Linked DNA regions of Homo sapiens: region 2 is linked to region 1. A link means that fine-mapping ties the variant in region 1 to the expression of a gene that starts in the linked region. Tissue or cell type: whole blood. Region 1 holds a variant in brackets; the other region holds the start of a gene. All regions are shown on one strand. Distances are between the middles of the regions.

Region 1 (7,984 bases):
GTGTGTGAGTGGGGTGTGTTGGGTGTGTGTGTGTTGGGTGTGTGCGTGTTGGGTGTGTGTGAGTGGTGTGTGTGTGTTGGGAGTGTGTGTGGGGTGAGTGGGATGTGTGTGTATGTTGGGGTGTGTGGGAGTGGGGTGTGTGTGTGCTTGTGTCATTCCCTTGGAGAATAATCCCTTCCAGAGCAGCCAAGGCCACCCCCAAGCCTGGAGCACATGGGATGCGGAAGGTTTGGGTAACTCCCTTTTTATGCCTAATTTGGAACTCTGTCAGAGTGGGAAAGTGGCAGTACGGATGGTGTTCCTTGAAAACATTGAAGGCAAATGAATAAACCCTTTGCCATCTGGGGCAAACAATAAACCCGCCCAAAGACAGAGGAAAAGCTAAGAATTGAGTTACTTGGGGGAATAAAATTTTGAAAAGTTTCCATGAATAATGAGGAATCTAGAAAGCCACACAAATGCTCGAGCAGGACGCACTCGAAAAAGACCTGAGAAGACCTCAGTGCAGGCTGGAAGGAAGGCTGAGTGTGGGAGGAGTGTCCCAACTCAGGGCCAGTCTACAGAGACTGAGAGAGTATTATTTTTTCTTTATTTTATTTTATTTTTTTTTGAGATGGAGTCTCACTCCTTTGCCCAGGCTGGAGTGCAGTGGCGCCATCTCAGCTCAACTGCAACCTTTGCCTCCCAGGTTCAAGTGATTGTCCTACTTCAGCCTCCGGAGTAGCTGGGACTACAGGCACCCGCCACCACGCCTGGCTAATTTTTTGTATTTTTGGTAGAGACGGGGTTTCACCATGTTGGCCAGGATGGTCTCGATCTCCTGACCTTGTGATCCACCCGCCTCGGCCTCCCAGAATGTTGGGATTACAGGCGTGAGCCACCATGCCTGGCCAGTTTTTTTTTTTCTTTTTTCTTTTCCATGTTTTGGCTGTAGGTGTTTAAGGAAATCTCTATCAAACTACTAATTGGCAACAAGCCAAAGGAACATAGACTTTATTTATTTATTTATTTATTTATTTTTTGTTTTATTTATTTATTTATTTATTTTTGAGATGGAGTTTCGCTCCTGTTGCCAAGCTAGGGTGCAATGGCGTGACCTTGGCTCACAGCAACCTCCACCTCCCGGGTTCAAGCGATTCTCCTGCCTCAGCCTCCCAGCTAGCTGGGATTACAGGCATGCACCACCATGTCTGGCTAATTTTGTATTTTTAGTAGAGACGGGGTTTCTCCATGTTGGTCAGGCTGGTCTTGAACTCCTGACTTCAGGTGCTCTGCCCACCTCAGCCTCCCAAAGTGCTGGGATTACGGGCGTGAGCCACCACGCCTGCCCTATTTTTTATTTATTTTTTAATGTTTTAAATTTTTTTACTAGTGGAAATCTGCTTGAATTTGTAAAATGTAGAGTTGACACAGAAGATGTGAAAAGAATGAAGACATTTTCTAGGGAATCTTGAACAAGAGAAAACCGACATGAACAAGAGAACAATAAAAGAGGCCAGGCGCGGTGGCTCACTGGGTGACTGTGAGATCCTTCCTCAAAGAGAGAGAGAGAGAAGGAAGGAAGGAAAGACAATAGGAAATGTTGATGAGGATGTGGAGAAATTGGAAGTGTTGTACAGTGTTGGTGGAAATGTTAAACGCTGCAGCCGTTAAGGAAGCAGCAAGGCAGTTGATCCAAAAGTTACGCATAAAATTATCCTAGGCCGGGCGCGGTGGCTCACACCTGTCATCCCAGCACTTTGGGAGGCTGAGGTGGGTGGATCACGAGGTCAGGAGATTGTGAACATCCTGGCCAACATGGTGAAACCCCGTCTCTACTAAAAATACAAAAAAAAAAATTAGCTGGGCGTGGTGGCGTATGCCTGTAATCCCAGCTACTTGGGCGGCTGAGGCAGGAGAATCACTTGAACCCGGGAGGGGGAGGTTTCAGTGAGCCGAGATCGCACCACTGCACTCCAGCCTGGCAACAGAGCGAGACTCACTCTCAAAACAAAGCAAACAAACCAAAAAAAAAACAAAAAAAGAATACGATATGGATCTGTGCTGTAGCCTGGATGGACCCCAAAAACATGCTAAATGAAAGAAGCCAGATACAAGAGGCCATGTATGATTCCTTTGATATGAAATATCCACGATAGACTCACCCATGGAGACAGAACACAGATTAGTGGTTGGCTGGGAGGAGTGGGGAGGAGGGAGTCATTGCTGTGGGATTTCTTTCTGGGATGAAGAAAATGGGAACTAGGGCCAGGCCCGGTGGCTTCTCACCTGTAATCCCAGCACATTGGGAGGCTGAGGCGGGTGGATCACTTGAGGTCAGGAGTTCAAGACCAACCTGACCAACATGGGGAAACCCCGTCTCTACTAAAAATACAAAAAGTAGCCGGGTGTGGTGGTGCTTGCCTGTAATCCCAGCTACTCAGGAGGTTGAGGCAGGAGAATTGCTTGAACCTAGGAGGCAGAGGTTGCAGTGAGCCGAGATTGAGACACCGCACTCCAGCCTGGGCGACAGTGAGACTCTGTCTCAAAAAAAAAAAAAAAAAAAAAAGCCTAAATATCCACATATCCACACATGAGAGAAGTTCAGAGTGAATACACAGGTGAATGCCGATGGGTTGTCTCTGGTGATGAGTTTACAGGGGCTTTTGCGCATTTTCCCAATCCCACAGGGAGCCTATTGAATTCTGAAGCTGAGAGCAGTGTATGCGTGAACGGTGCTCTAAGCGCAGACGCCGCATTCTAACCATGGTGAGGAGGGTGCTAGGAGCCAAGGGAGGCGGCCCCAGAAGCTGAGACAGCGAGCTGCGTGGCCAGCCTCACCCTGCAGCAGAGTCAGGTGGTCAGTCCTCACCTGCAGTCATGGGGTGGGTGGAGAGGGAAAGGGCGCACAGAGAGGGGCCCGCGCCTGTCCCTTGGCACAGCCATCCTCCACTTGGCCTCTCCTTTGGTGGCCGCTGGTTGCTGACTAACAGGGTGTCCTTTGTGCATTCTTCCTCTGGAGAGGCTACTGGGCTTGGCTGCTGGGTTGTACTTCCTGTGGTGAGGGAAGAGGAGACTGCCGGAGCCAGGGGTCATTTGGGTTGGAGGCATCGGCAGGCCAGGAGGCTGCTGGTGGAGCTTCCTTTCCTCAGCTTCCTGCTGGGCGTCTTGCTGTGAGGTCTCCCGGCGATGCCCGGTGTGGTGTGGAAGGGAGGTGTCGGATGAGCATGCCCGCTACAGGGCCAGACTGCCCGCCTCCGCCTCTAGGGGCTTGGGAGGCCTGGCCTGGCTGGCCCTGGGGTGCCCGGGCCTGCCTATACCTTCTGGGTCGGTCTCTGCAGTGCATCTGTGCTCTGAGCACAAGCCAAGGCATTCGTGTGGAGGCCCGGGGCGCCGGGAGCCTGGTAGGGTGCTGGGAGCTTGGCAGGGTGCCGTGAGCCTGGCAGGGTGCCGCCTCTGGTGTGGGCAGTTCTCCTCTTACGTGGACTTGTCCTGCACGTCTGCAGGAGCTGCTTCTTCGTCTTCCCACACCCTCCTGCCCATGGGCCCTGGAGGCAGACGGTGCTGGGAAGCTGGTCAGTGCCCACATGTGGGTGTCCCTGCCTGGGCCTTCCCAAGAGGAGGTGGCCCCTGAGGTGGGGTCTTTGCGAGTCTACTGGAGCTGTGCGTGGGGTGCACAGCCCTGCCCTGTCTGAAGGGGGTCGTGTTTCAACAGGGAGCTACATCAGAGGTTTTGGTAGATGCTGCTGTAGACCTCATATCCGATGAATGGGAAGCTGCTAATGCCATACCCAGCAAGAGAAGGAAGCAGGATGCAGCCCCGCTTGAGGCCGCCAGCGTGCCTTCTGCAGACTGTGAGCAGGTAGTCCGAGTCAATAGTTTGGGCAGAATGCTCCCTGCCCTGGTGCATGCTGGCACAGCCTGGCACGGCCACCTCGCACTTCCGGCCCTTGAGTCCCTGCCAGTCGAGGAAGGCTGCCCAGGATGGGCGTTTTCGGGTCACCCTTGGGCTGTGAAAGAGCAACGCTGATTCAGGCTTGGCTCTTGTGACTCTGAGGATGTTTTGCTAGTGGTGAATTTCAGCTTTATTGTGCTTGCCCTTCTGGCCCACATCCTTCCACTTGCCTTTTTACTCC[G/A]TGCAGCTGTCCCCTTGGACACCTGGAGAAACTTAACCTGGCTGCACTCACCTGGCTAAAGCTCCACCAGCAACACAGGCTTCACCACAGAGAGCAGCAGGGGAGCCCAAGGGGGCTTAGAGGGCCAGGCCCAGGCAGGTGGGGGCCCGACCCAGCCTCTGCCTGAACACAAGGTCTTGGATGGCGCTCGCCACGTGGGGGTGTAGTGGAAGCCCTGCTCAGTTTAGTCTCTGGTTTTTGGAAGTTGAAATCCTGACTTTTTCTCTTTTTCTTTTCTTTCTTTCTTTCTTTTTTTTTTGAGACAGAGTCTCGCTCTGTCGCCCAAGCTGGAGTGCAGTGGCACGATCTCAGTTCACTGCAACCTCCGCGTGCAGGGTTCAAGCGATTCTCCTGCCTCACCCTCCTGAGTAGCTGGGATTACAGGCACCTGCCACCACGCCCGGCTACTTTTTTTGTGTATTTTTAGTAGAGACGGGGTTTCACCATGTTGGCCAGGCTGGTCTCGAACTCCTGGCCTCAAATGATCCACCCATCTTGGCCTTCCAAAATGCTGGGATTACAGACGTGAGCCACTGTGCCTGCCCCAAATCCTGACTTTTTCTATAGCATTTAGGAGTATTACAGGACTCACTAATAATATCAAAAATGAAATTAGGTAACACATGTAATGAAAGGACTTTTGCTTTTGGGGAAAAGCAAGGGAGCTTCATACCTTGAAGAGTGATGCTTGTGAAGTTTATTACTTTTTTGCAGAGGGCGACGGCCTCCCTGCCTTCCCCGCACCGCGCTCCCCCCAGCCCCTGCCCATCGAGATGGTCATGTGTTCATTGAACGGAGACTTACCGAGCATCCACCACGCCTAGGTCTTAAGTGTAGGCAGAAGCCTTCAAGGCAGGCATGCTCTTTCCTCTGTGGGCTGGGGCTTGGCCGTGAGCCCACTCCTGCAGCTCCTGGGAAATGCAGGCAGCGTCCACACGGGGCTGGACTTAGCCAGACCTAAGGCACAGTGTGGGTGGAGAGCTCATTCACAATAGCAACAAAAATGTGAGAAGGAACTTGTAAAATAAAGGATGGATTCATAGGCCATGCGAGGAGAAGAAGGCTCGGGCTCAGCAGACAGTGAAGTCCGTGGAGAGGTGGGCCCTTCCCCAGAGAGAACATGGAAGGTTTAGCACTGCAGAGATGTCTGCTGTCACCCAGAATGACACGGGAACTTAACCAACTAATTAATGTATAACAGTAGTATAGCTCTGAATGGGTTTGGTGGGTTTTGTTTTTGTTTGTTTTGAGGCAGGGTCTCGCCCTGGGTCCCAGGCTGGAGCGCAGTGGCAAAATCATAGCTCACTGCAGCCTTGACTTCCTGGGCTCAAGCAATCCTCGTGCCTCAGCCTCCCGAGTAGCTGGGACTACAGGCGTGCACCACCACACCCAATTAATTTTTAAAATTTTTGGTAGAGATGGGGTCTTGCTGTGTTACCCACGCTGGTCTCAAACTCCTGGGCTCAAGCAATTCTCCCGCCCCAGCCTCCCAAAGTGCAGGGATTACAGGCATAAACCACCACCCTAGCCTCGTTTTGTATTTTTGGAAGTTGACAGATTTTAAACTATAAATTGGTGAGGATACTTAACAGATGTGAGGAGGAGAAATGGATGGGAGATTTATAGTAAAGCTGTCAACGTACACGGGTGGAAACATTCCCACGGAGTAACAGAGGCGCGACCTGGGGATGCGCACGGAGCATGAGATGTGAGCTGGAGTTAGGGCACTGCATATGCGGACCGGAGCGTGTTGGTCAGGGTGTATACACGGGTGTGGAAAGTGGGGTGTCTAGACCATGGGCTCAGCATTTGGGTAAAACACACACACTCCACTCACCCCAGTCACACACACCCCCCGCCACACATACCCCACTCACACATACCCCACTCACACCACTCACACACACCCCCACACCCCACTCACACCACTCACACACACCCCCACACATACCCTCCACACACACATACCCCACTCACACCACTCACACACACCCCCACACACACCCCACTCACACACACCTCAACACACATACCCCACTCACACCACTCACACTCCCCCCCACACACATACCCTCCACACACACATACCCCACTCACACCACTCACACACGCCCCCACACACACACCCCACTCACACACACCTCAACACACACACACACCCCACTCACACCACTTACACACCCCCAAGACAAACACCCCATTCACACCACTCACACACCCTGCAACATACACCCCACTCACAACACTCACACACCCCCCAACATACATACACCCCACTCACACACACACCCCAACACACACATGCCCCACTCATACCACTCACACACCCCCCAAGACAAACGCCCCACTCACACCACTCACACACTGCCAACACACACAGCCAACTCACACCACTCACACACACCCCCAACACACACTCCCCACTCACCCCACTCACACACACCCCAACATACGCAAGTCCCACTCACACCCATCTCATACTCACACTGAAACACACAGTGGTCCCTTGTTGCCCACAGGGGGTCGGTTCCAGGACCGCGGAGGACGCCAAAATCCAAGGATGCCCAGTCCCAGATATGAAACGGCGTGGCATTGGTACATAACCCACAGCATCCGCCTGTACACTTAATTTTTTATTTTTTTTATTTTTTGAGACGGATTCTCTCTCTTTTGCCCAGGCTGGAGTGCAATGGCGTGATCTCGGCTCCCTGCAACCTCCGCCTCCTGGGTTCAAGCGAGTCCCCTGCCTCAGCCTCCCGAGCAGCTGGGACTATAGGCGCCTGCCACCACACCTGGCTAATTTTTGTATTTTTAGTAGAGATGGGGTTTTGCCATGTTGGCTAGGCTGGTTTCAAGCTCCTGACCTCAAGGAATCCGCCTGCCTTGACCTCCCAAAGTATTGGGATAACAGGCCTGAGCCACTGAGGCCGGCCCCCGACACCATGCACTTTAATTCATCTCTAGATTCCTTACCACAGGCATCTGTATGACATAGATGCTGTATGAACAGTTGCTACACGGTGCGGTGTTGCTCTTTGTGTTCTTTGTTATTGTTGTCTCGTTATTTTCTGTTTTCTTCCCCAGTATTTTCTGTCTGTGGTTGGCTGAATCTGTGGCTGCAGAGGGCCGACTGTATACCAGCTTGATTCAATATTTTATTTTTATTTTTTATTTATTATTGTTATTATTTTTTGAGATGGAGTCTCACTCTGTCGCCCAGGCCGGAGTGCAGTGGCACAATCTCGGCTCACTGCAAGCTCCGCCTCCCAGGTTCACGCCATTCTCCTGCCTCAGCCTCCCGAGTAGCTGGGACTACAGGCGCCCACCACCACGCCCAGCCAATTTTTTTGTATTTTTGTAGAGATGGGGTTTCACCGTGTTAGCCAGGATGGTCTGGATCTCCTGACCTTGTGATCCACCCGCCTCGGTCTCCCAAAGTGCTGGGATTACAGGCGTGAGCCACTGCACCCGGCCTATTATTACTATTTTTCAAGGCAGAGTGTTGCTCTGTCTCCCAGGCTGGAGTGCAGTGGTGCAATCTTGGCTCACTGCAACCTCTGCCTCCTAGGTTCAAGTGATTTCTCCTGCCTCAGCCTCTAGAGTAGCTGGGATTACAGGTGTGTGCCACCACGCCTGGCTAATTTTTGTATTTTTAGTAGAGATGGGGTTTCCCCATGTTGGCCAGGCTGGTCTCGAACTCCTGACCTCAGGTGATCCGCCCGCCTCGTTCTCTCAAAGTGCTGGGATTACAGGTGTGAGCCACCACGCCTGGCCTGATTCAATATTTTAATGTAAAACAGCATCCTAAAAGCTCTAGAAAATGTAGGGGG
Region 2 (5,137 bases), 180 kb before region 1:
GTAGTCCCAGCTACTCAGGAGGCTGAGACAGGATAATGGCGTGAACCCGGGAGGCGGAGCTTGCAGTGAGCCGAGATCGCACCGCTGCACTCCAGCCTGGGCGACAGAGCAAGACTCCATCTCAAAAAAAAAAAAGAATGCCTCCTAGATGGTGATGATGGGTGACCCATAAAGCACCGACCCAGTGCCTCTCAGCCTCTTCCCTGAGATCCAGGGGCGCAACACCTTCACGCCGTCCCTTTTCAGGCGTAGGTCTCGCCTCCTCTTCGGCATTTCCTGGAATCTGAGTTTGTGGGGGGCCAGCAGGTGTCTTTCTTCTGGTTTGCATAGCCCTATATGGAGTCTCTTTTCCTACCCAGAACCTTTCAGAGATCGTGGCCCTGCAGACACGCCTTAAGCACCTGCAGGCTGTGAAGGAGGGGCGCTACGTGTTCCTGTTCCGCTCCAAGCAGTCCCTAGTGCTGGAGCGCCAGCGCCTGGACAAGCGACTGGCTCTCATCGCCACCATCCTGGACCGCGTGCGGGACGAGTACCCCCAGTTCCAGGAGGCCCTGCACAAGGTCAGCCAGATGATCGCCAACAAGCTCGAGTCACCAGGGCCCTCCTAGGGAGCAGCCTGGACTCCGCCTTGCAAGGCCTCCAGGAAGAGATCCGGAATTGTGTTTGTCATGAGGGACTTGGAATCTTTTGTGTTCCTAAAAACCACATGTACCCTCAGAAGGGCATCGTTTAAGAGAAATAAGCCAGCCCCACCCATAGGAATCTTTTTAGCCACTCAGCAATTTAATAAACCAGGTAAAATCCTAGCGTTTCCCATGGCATCCCATCGCAAAGACAGAGCCTGTGACTGCAGACCCACACACCCACACTCCCACACTGGGCTTACTCGTCCAGGTAACACTTTGGTTTGCAGCACTCCCAAATCTGCACGTGCCTCTCACAACACAACGCTGCCACAGGTCCACAAGCTGGTGGGCTGAGCAGAGGTGGGAAAGTTAAGGCAGCTCCAGCCAGCCTGGCCCGGGAGGCTGGTCCCCCCAGCACTTCCCTCTACTAGGTGCATCTGAAAACCCACAAACCACCTTCTTTACCAGTTTTCCCATCCCCACCCCTTAGAACTCTCAGGTCCCTTTTCCTGCCCCCATGTCCCCATTTGAGTTAAATTCAGATCCACAGCTTGCAGGAGAAAGTCAGTGGCCCCAGACACACGTAACAGGGTGAGCACTGAAATAAGAGCACGCTGGGGCGTCCACACCAAGGGACTACGCCCCAGTCTGCCCACCTATCTTTTCTCCATCATTAACCCAGCGCTCTTTCTCCCTGGACTTCCAAGTACCAATGACCTTGGGGCTTCTTTGCAGTTTAAAGGGAAAATGCTCTACAAAATAATTTCACTTTCAAACATTTCAGCAGAAGAATAAAATCTTTTTTCTGAATATCTAGTAAGCCTTTCTGAGTCAGCCTTACTTATTTTAAAACATTGTAGAAATACAGAAACCACAACAGAGGTGGAAGGGAGGCTTTTGTTTTTTTTTTTTTGAGACGGAGTCTCGCTCTGTCGCCCAGGCTGGAGTGCAGTGGCGCGGTCTCGGCTCGCTGCAAGCTGGAAAGGGGGCTTTTAATGCCCCTATGCCCCTACCCAGGAACAACACCTCTGTGTTTTGGTGTGGCTCCTTTTGTATTTTTCTGCACATACATTTTATTAGGCAAGTTAAGGTTATACTGTGTGTTTTTTGTATCTCACATGTAAAAATGTGCTCCTCTTAATGTAAGCATTTTCTCATTTTATGAAAAAATTCCCCCTGTGTCAGTTTAATGTTTTCTCAATTGTCAGTTTTATGGGTTATCACAATGTTTTGATTATTCCTTTCTGGAATAACTGTGAGTTATGGAGCACACTTAAGGACTTTCCAAATGTTGGCTGTTTCTAACTTGGCGCTGAGCGCCTTTGGCCGCCTTTCCGATGATGCCCTCGGGACGCGTTGGCAGGAGGAATCCCTGGGCGCAAGGCGCGGCTGGGCCAGCCCCTTACAAAGCCCTACGAGCTGCGGGGACCCAGGCCGGGGCAGCGGGGGCCACGCCCCATCTCCGACCCCACGGGGACCGGGCCGGGACTGCGCCAGCGGGGGCCTCGCCCCGTCTCTGACCCCAGAGGAACCGGCAGCGGGCAGCACGCGTGGGCCTCTCCCCGCGGGACGCCGGACGCGCAGCCAGACGCGCTCCCCAGGCCCCCTCCGAGAGCGAGGACGCGCCCAGGCCCGCTCTGCCGGAGCCGCCACTGGGGGGCGTAGCGCGGACGCGCACCCTTGCCTCGGGCGCCTGCGCGGGAGGCCGCGTCACGTGACCCACCGCGGCCCCGCCCCGCGACGAGCTCCCGCCGGTCACGTGACCCGCCTCTGCGCGCCCCCGGGCACGACCCCGGAGTCTCCGCGGGCGGCCAGGGCGCGCGTGCGCGGAGGTGAGCCGGGCCGGGGCTGCGGGGCTTCCCTGAGCGCGGGCCGGGTCGGTGGGGCGGTCGGCTGCCCGCGCGGCCTCTCAGTTGGGAAAGCTGAGGTTGTCGCCGGGGCCGCGGGTGGAGGTCGGGGATGAGGCAGCAGGTAGGACAGTGACCTCGGTGACGCGAAGGACCCCGGCCACCTCTAGGTTCTCCTCGTCCGCCCGTTGTTCAGCGAGGGAGGCTCTGCGCGTGCCGCAGCTGACGGGGAAACTGAGGCACGGAGCGGGTGAGACACCTGACGTCTGCCCCGCGCTGCCGGCGGTAACATCCCAGAAGCGGGTTTGAACGTGCCTAGCCGTGCCCCCAGCCTCTTCCCCTGAGCGGAGCTTGAGCCCCAGACCTCTAGTCCTCCCGGTCTTTATCTGAGTTCAGCTTAGAGATGAACGGGGAGCCGCCCTCCTGTGCTGGGCTTGGGGCTGGAGGCTGCATCTTCCCGTTTCTAGGGTTTCCTTTCCCCTTTTGATCGACGCAGTGCTCAGTCCTGGCCGGGACCCGAGCCACCTCTCCTGCTCCTGCAGGACGCACATGGCTGGGTCTGAATCCCTGGGGTGAGGAGCACCGTGGCCTGAGAGGGGGCCCCTGGGCCAGCTCTGAAATCTGAATGTCTCAATCACAAAGACCCCCTTAGGCCAGGCCAGGGGTGACTGTCTCTGGTCTTTGTCCCTGGTTGCTGGCACATAGCACCCGAAACCCTTGGAAACCGAGTGATGAGAGAGCCTTTTGCTCATGAGGTGACTGATGACCGGGGACACCAGGTGGCTTCAGGATGGAAGCAGATGGCCAGAAAGACCAAGGCCTGATGACGGGTTGGGATGGAAAAGGGGTGAGGGGCTGGAGATTGAGTGAATCACCAGTGGCTTAGTCAACCATGCCTGCACAATGGAACCCCGTAAGAAACCACAGGGATCAGAGGGCTTCCCGCCGGGTTGTGGAACACACCAAGGCACTGGAGGGTGGTGCGAGCAGAGAGCACAGCATCACTGCCCCCACCTCACACCAGGCCCTACGCATCTCTTCCATACGGCTGTCTGAGTTTTATCCTTTGTAATAAACCAGCAACTGTAAGAAACGCACTTTCCTGAGTTCTGTGACCCTGAAGAGGGAGTCCTGGGAACCTCTGAATTTATAACTAGTTGATCGAAAGTACAAGTGACAACCTGGGATTTGCCATTGGCCTCTGAAGTGAAGGCAGTGTTGTGGGACTGAGCCCTTAACCTGTGGAGTCTGTGCTGACTCCAGGTAGTGTCAAGATTGAATTGAATTGTAGGACACCCAGCCGTGTCCAGAAAGTTGCAGAATTGATGGGTGTGAGAAAAACCCTACACATTTAATGTCAGAAGTGTGGGTAAAATGTTTCACCCTCCAGCCCAGAGAGCCCTAATTTACCAGTGGCCCACGGTGGAACACCACGTCCGGCCGGGGGCAGAGCGTTCCCAGCCAAGCCTTCTGTAACATGACATGACAGGTCAGACTCCCTCGGGCCCTGAGTTCACTTCTTCCTGGTATGTGACCAGCTCCCAGTACCAGAGAAGGTTGCACAGTCCTCTGCTCCAAGGAGCTTCACTGGCCAGGGGCTGCTTTCTGAAATCCTTGCCTGCCTCTGCTCCAAGGCCCGTTCCTCAGAGACGCAGACCCCTCTGATGGCTGACTTTGGTTTGAGGACCTCTCTGCATCCCTCCCCCATGGCCTTGCTCCTAGGACACCTTCTTCCTCCTTTCCCTGGGGTCAGACTTGCCTAGGTGCGGTGGCTCTCCCAGCCTTCCCCACGCCCTCCCCATGGTGTATTACACACACCAAAGGGACTCCCCTATTGAAATCCATGCATATTGAATCGCATGTGGGTTCCGGCTGCTCCTGGGAGGAGCCAGGCTAATAGAATGTTTGCCATAAAATATTAATGTACAGAGAAGCGAAACAAAGGTCGTTGGTACTTGTTAACCTTACCAGCAGAATAATGAAAGCGAACCCCCATATCTCATCTGCACGCGACATCCTTGTTGTGTCTGTACCCGAGGCTCCAGGTGCAGCCACTGTTACAGAGACTGTGTTTCTTCCCCATGTACCTCGGGGGCCGGGAGGGGTTCTGATCTGCAAAGTCGCCAGAGGTTAAGTCCTTTCTCTCTTGTGGCTTTGCCACCCCTGGAGTGTCACCCTCAGCTGCGGTGCCCAGGATTCCCCACTGTGGTATGTCCGTGCACCAGTCAATAGGAAAGGGAGCAAGGAAAGGTACTGGGTCCCCCTAAGGACATACGAGTTGCCAGAATCACTTCCGCTGACACCCAGTGGACCAAGCCGCACCTTTATGCAGAAGTGGGGCTCCCAGCCAGGCGTGGTCACTCCTGAAATCCCAGCACTTCGGAAGGCCAAGGGGGGTGGATCACTTGAGCTCAGGAGTTCGAGACCAGCCTGGGTAACATGGCAAAATCCCGTCTCTACAAAAATACAGAAAATTAGCTGGGTGCGGTGGTGTGTGCCTACAGTCCCAGCTACTCAGGAGGCTGAAGTGGGAGGATTGCTTGAGTCTGGGAGGTGGAGGTTGCAGTGAGCCAGGATCTCACCACAGCACTCTGGCCCAGGCGACAGCTGTTTGGCCTGTTTCAAGTGTCTACCTGCCTTGCTGGTCTTCCTGGGGACATTCTA

The links. PIP is the estimated chance that this variant, and not a neighbour inherited with it, causes the effect.
Region 2: GAA starts here. The variant in region 1 is fine-mapped to the expression of GAA in whole blood (TwinsUK, PIP 0.95).

Annotation. Positions count from the first base shown.
Region 1 is chr17:80,275,070-80,283,053 of GRCh38, forward strand. All of the region lies in intron 3 of RNF213 (ring finger protein 213), which reads left to right. Among named protein-coding and RNA genes, the nearest start is that of RNF213, 18 kb to the left of the region's middle. RefSeq lists an enhancer at 2,953-3,571. The variant G/A (reference allele first, on the strand shown) is at 4,116.
Region 2 is chr17:80,099,168-80,104,304 of GRCh38, forward strand. GAA (alpha glucosidase) reads left to right here and starts at 2,414. Exons shown (of 20, transcript NM_000152.5): 1 at 2,414-2,723. CCDC40 (coiled-coil domain 40 molecular ruler complex subunit) reads left to right here. Exons shown (of 20, transcript NM_017950.4): 20 at 360-1,446. The coding sequence ends at 608. RefSeq lists a silencer at 1,961-2,580 and an enhancer at 2,911-3,020.